2 separate regions of the Homo sapiens genome follow, and region 1 is linked to region 2. Evidence: fine-mapped expression QTL. A gene starts in region 2. The other region holds a variant in brackets. All regions are shown on one strand. Distances are from middle to middle.

Evidence for each region. PIP is the estimated chance that this variant, and not a neighbour inherited with it, causes the effect.
Region 1: its variant is the best candidate, but not a certain one, in a credible set for the expression of CHIT1 in whole blood (INTERVAL, PIP 0.84).

What each region holds. Positions count from the first base shown.
Region 1 is chr1:203,207,228-203,210,139 of GRCh38, reverse strand. No RefSeq gene overlaps it. Among named protein-coding and RNA genes, the nearest start is that of CHIT1, 21 kb to the left of the region's middle. The variant C/TC (reference allele first, on the strand shown) is at 1,654.
Region 2 is chr1:203,228,215-203,231,126 of GRCh38, reverse strand. CHIT1 (chitinase 1) reads left to right here and starts at 1,454. Exons shown (of 11, transcript NM_003465.3): 1 at 1,454-1,515; 2 at 2,565-2,594. The coding sequence starts at 1,491.

The DNA of each region.
Region 1 (2,912 bases), 21 kb after region 2:
GTCTTTTGTGAATAGTCCAATGTGTCTCTTGTCATTTTTCTATTGGGTTGTTTATATCTTTCTTACTGAAATGTAGGCGTTCTTTCCATGCTCCGAACACAAATCCACTCATGACTGCAGGTTTGGCTAAATCTTCTGGGTTGAGGCTTGGCTTTTCATTCTCCTTAGGTGCCTTTAATGTAGTCAGATTTACCAATCTTATTCTTTATGGTTTTTACTTTCTGTATCTTGAGAAATTTTTCTCTAGTCTGAAGTCAAGAGCTATTTTCCTATATTATCTTCTAAAAGTTTTGTAGCTTTTTTCCCACTTAAGCCTTTAGTCTTACTGAAATTGCCATTTAAATATGCTGTAAGGTTGTATCTAATTTTTTTTCTATACGGATAACTGGTTATTCAAGCACTATTTATTGAATAATCTATCCCTTTCATACTAACCTACAATACCATCCCTGAAACAAATTATGTTTCTGTACACACATGGGAATCTTTCTGTTCCATTGGTGTATTTTTCTTTTGCTGCCCCAATAACTCACTATCTTAATTACTAAAGCCTTATAATAAATCCTGATATTTATTACAGCAAATCTTTATACTGTGTTCTTTGTTTCAGAAATGTCTTGGATGTTCTTAGCTCTTACTTTTCCATGTATATGTTAGAATTATATTGCCAAATTCCATTAAAAATTCTGTCCAGGTTTTGATTATAATTGCACTGAATCTATAGATTGAGAAGAATTGGCATCTGTATGATATTAAGTCTCCTTATCTAAAAACATGGTATATCTGTTTAGTTGTCTTCTACTGCTTTTTTTAATGTTTTCTATTTATAATAGAGGCAGGGTCTCCCTATGTTGCCCAGGCTGGTCTCGAACTCCTGGCCTCAGCTTCCCAAAGTACTGGGATTACAAGTGTGAGCCACTGTGCCTGGCCCTAGTTGTCTTCTTAAATATATTTTGATAAAATTTTATAAATTTTTTCTTAAAGGTCTCATACATCTTTTATTAGATTTATTCCTAGGTATTTTAAATTTTTGATTACGGTTATAAATTTTATCCATGGTAAAAATTAAATTTTCTAACCAACTGTTGTTGGTGTATGGTAATGCCACTTTTGTATGTTGATGTTGTATCCAGCAACTTTTCTAACTCTCTGATTAAGTTTGATGATTATTGTTCTGCAAATTCTGCACAGCATTCTATGTAGGTAGTCATGTCATATCATCTGCAGAAATAAGTTTTGTTTCTTCCATTCTAAACCATATAACTTTTGTTTATTTGTCTTGCAAACTGCTCTAAGACATCCAGTACAGTGGTGAGTGTAAGCAGTGATAATGGACATTTTTGTCTTGTTCTTGGCCTGAAAGAGGATGCTTTCAATATTTCAGTGTTAAATATGCCATTTATTGTAGGTTTTGCATAGATGCCTTTAACAAGACTAAAGAAGTCCTTCTACTCCTAATTTGCCAGGAGTTTTTATGAGAATGGATGTAAGTTTTGTCATATGGTTTTCCATTTATAAATTTTTGCTTTTATTCTGGTAATAAATCATATTCATTTTCCCCTGTTAAATTCATCTTACATTTCTAGGATTGAGCCAGCTTGGTCATGCTATATTAATTTTTTTTTGTAATTTGCTGGATTAGTTTTTTTTTTT[C/TC]ACATTTTCACACATATGTTAGTGAGTAAGATGGACCTGCATGTTTTCTTTCTTACACTCTAGGAAGTCCTCACCACCTCCAGCTGTTGTCCAGGCCAATAATAAACTGATCTGGGGTATCAAGATTCTGGGATATCAAGCTGGGAAGGTCCCCTCATTCTATTTTTTGATAGATGTGTTAAAAGGACTTATCTGCTCCTTGAACATTTGGTAGCAGTCACCAGTAAAGCCATCAGCTCGATGCTTTTTTTAAGGATAATTTTTAACCACTGATTTAGTGTCTTTGTTGGCTACAGGGCTATTGCATTTTCTATTTTCCCTCTAGTAGGTAGAAAGCTGAAACTCTCTGTCCCTTCTTAGGCCAAGATCCTCCTCTTTCTCCCCAAATGGTACTGAGGGTGGTAGGAAGTGGCATTAGAGCTTGCTTTTGTCTTACTCAGAACTCAGCATCTCTGTTTCCTGTGCAAGAGCCCTTATTTGACATAAAATCAAGGTAGTGGCTAGTGCTCTCTCCCTCCCATCTGTCCCTCTTAAGTGTCCCTGGAGAGGGATAGAGCAGATGCCATAAACCTGTGGTTTTCCCAGAAGTCGCTGAGTGACACCAGATTGTTGAAAGTGCCACGAATAATTAAGAACCTTCTGGGGAGGTTGTTCATCTTGAGGCACTGCCCTCACTTCTCTCACTGAAGGAATCCACAGATTCCCCCAGGGATCTCCAGAGGATCCAGGCTCAATAAACCTGCTCCCTCCATTCTTCCCTCCTTCTTTCTTCTCCCCTGGCTCCATGTCCCCTCCCACAGGTACAGCCTTTCCCTACATTGTGTTAAAGCAAACTAACTACGGCCTGAGAAGGACTCCATACTTCCATATTTGGGTCCTTGTGGATGAACTGTAACCTAGCTTAATAGTCAGACAAAATTGAAAACCTAACTTAGTAGTGTGCACCTGTAACAATAGCTGAGTGTTGGCCAATCCCAGCAGCCATACTTCAATTACTGATATGCTGCTGAATGTTCAAACTACATTCAAATAAGGCAAACGCCAAGTTGTAACCAATCTCCCGGTTTCTGTGCTTCCCTTCCAATTCCTGTACTTCACTTTTTCTTTTTTGTCTGTAAATTTGTTCTGACCACGAGGCACCCCTGGAGACTCTGAATCTGCTGTGATTCTAGGGGCTGCCCAATTTGTGAATCGTTCATTGCTCAATTAAACTCAATTAAACTCCTTAAACTCTTTCAGCTGTAGTTTGTTTTTTGTTT
Region 2 (2,912 bases):
AAAGACTGGATCCCCTAGAAACTGCAGAGCTTTCTCAGGGACCCTGGAGTTCATGCATACACCAGACATTGTCTGCAGACATTACAGTAATATGTGCCCACTTGGGTCCTGTGGTGAATTGAATGGTGACCCCCTCCCACCCCCCGCAAAGGATAACTTCACCTGGAATCTCAGAAGGTGACTGTATTTGTAATAGGGGTCTTTGCAAATGTAATGAAGGTAAAGATCTCAAGATGAGATCATCTTGGATTAGAATGTCCTTCTCAGAGACAGAAAGGAGGGGACATACAGAGACACAGCGAGGAAGGGCGTGTAAAAATGGAGGCAGGCAGAGGCTGGAACGATGCCGTTGCATGCCCAGGAATGCCACAGGCCATCCGAAGCTGGAAGCTGCTGGGAAGTATTCGCCCCTGGAGCCTTCGGAGGAAGCATGGCCCTGCCAACTCCTTGTTTCCAGGCTTCTGACCTCCAGAACTGTGAAAGAATAAACTTCTGTTGTTTCAAATCACCTGTTTGGTGGCCATTTGTTACAGAAGCTCTGGGAAACCGACACAAATGTCCACCATTCTTCTGTTTTTTTTTTTTTGTTTTTTTTTTTTTGATGGAGTTTCACTCTTGTTGCCCAGGCTGGAGTGCAGTGGCGCGATCTCGGCTCACCACAACCTCCGCCTCCTGGGTTCAAGCAATTCTCCTGCCTCAGCCTCCCGAGTAACTGGGATTACAGGCATGTGCCACCATGCCAGGCTAATTTTGTATTTTTAGTAAAGATGGGGTTTCTCCATGTTGGTTAGGCTGGTCTCGAACTCCTGATCTCAGGTGATCTACCTGCCTCGGCCTCTCAAAGTGCTGGAATTACATGTGTAAGCCACCATGCCTGGCCCAAATGTCCACCATTATTATTCTTCATAAGAAACATAGGCATTTCAAGCCATTACCAAACTTATAGTCACTATTTATCATTATCTATTTTTCTCCATCAATGGATATGCAACTATTACTATCATGAAAAGTAAATTATATTTGCAACCCCATTATCTTCTAGATGGAGAAACAGTTTGAGAGAGGGCAGTGGAGAAGCAAGAGAGCTGGTCTGGAACCCAGCTGCCTGACTCGTGAGTCATTTCTCTTCCTCCAAAGCCCTATTAAGTCTGGGGCTGCTTATGGTCCTCACCAACTACACAAAGAAAGTCAGGGTCATGCTCATCCATCAGGAGGTTCAGGGCCACTTCCCGCTTTCCTCTGTTTGGCAACACTAAGAGTCACCCTCTGATTGTTCCAGAAAAGCAAGAATTGCTAAAGGCCATTGTGTCAAGTTTGCCCAATTCATGCTGCTTGACATCTTACCCCTCCCCACCCTGCTCCCATCCCCCCCACCCAGTGCCCCTGATTGCAACACTCCTGGCTGGGGTGGGACAGGGTGGCCAGATAAAAGCAGAGCAGGACCTGGAAAGCTGGTTTGTATGGGCTGCAGCCTGCCGCTGAGCTGCATCATGGTGCGGTCTGTGGCCTGGGCAGGTGAGCCGTCGGATAGTGGGCTGGGTCTCGGGAGCTGTGGGGAGGTGGGGATGTGGATGTTCAGGGACCACTTGCTACCATTTGCAAGGAAGCAGGAGGACTCAGGAGAACTTCAGAGGGTCATTTTATCCCTCTCCATGCCTCCTGGCTTGCAGTCCCTTGATTACCTTTCCTGTGGGCTCCCCCTTAGGCTCTTTCAGCCCAAGAGACTTCATGTTGCAAGGGAAGGCTTTTCTCAACAGGCTGAAGATGACTTGACTTTCCTCTCTCTGTCCTGAAAGCCCAGAGTCAATGAGGCCCCTGCACTGGGTCTTTGTGTCTTTCCCATGTTCTTAGGTCCCTCCTGTTGGCCTTATCCAAGAAGCGCCCACTGCCAAGAACCTCTTCTCCAACCTCATATTGTCTGTCCTGCAAGAGGGCAGCCTGGGGCCAAGATCCTGGGCATCCTTGCAAATTTTCATGGAGGTTCTATTAGGTTGACAGAGAAGTCCAAGGTCACCAGGTGAAAGAGATCTCTTCGAAGGAGTCCTGTCAGACCCTAGGTCTCCAAGGCTGTGGTTGCCTACCACAGCCAGGTAGCGGAAAGGCAACAGGAAGCCATAAACGATGGGAGCAGAGGCACAGGCCCTCCCCAGGAGATGAACTCTCTCCATGCAGCCCTTCCAGATTGATTCTTTCTAGCCCCAAAACAGGCTTGTTTCTTGTTCCGAAAGAGAAACTATCTCTCTAAATAACTCACAAGTCAGCAGTTTTTCCACAATCTTCCTGAATCCACACTGCCCTTTACTGAGGTATAGAGAGGGGGCAGCCTCAGCCCATGGAACTTTCCATCAGCTTCTAGGACCAACCCAGGCCAGGAAGAGACCCCCGTGGTCTGGTCTGCATGAAGGGATGGGCACAGTGCCCTCCTGGGTCCCTTCTGAAAGGAGAAAGCTTGATTTGTATGAAATCAGCCCTCCCTGACCACCTCCTGTGCTTCCGTAAGCTGTGGGGCCTGGGAAGGTGAGAATGGCAGCATAACCCTGGCCTTCTCTCTTGTGTTGCTCCAGGTTTCATGGTCCTGCTGATGATCCCATGGGGTAAGTAGCCTCTTTCTTGGCTGCCTCAGCCCCTTCCCTGGGCTCTGCTTAATGTCCCAAAACACCTTCCCTGCCAGACCTCCCCAAGAGCTCCAGATTTCAGTGGGGACTCTCTTCCAAAGCTCAGACCCCTGCAAATGTCCCCATCTGCTACCAGCCCTCCCAGGAAGGCTCTTGCCTCCTTATCCATTAGCTGAGCTCCTGCACATCTGTGGGGCCAGCTTGCGCATCAGCCTCTTTCAGGGCTTTCCTTTCCTGGGGTTGCTGGCTCCCTCCTCTGCACTCTGTGCTCTTGCAGCACCTGTGTGTTTTACAGTA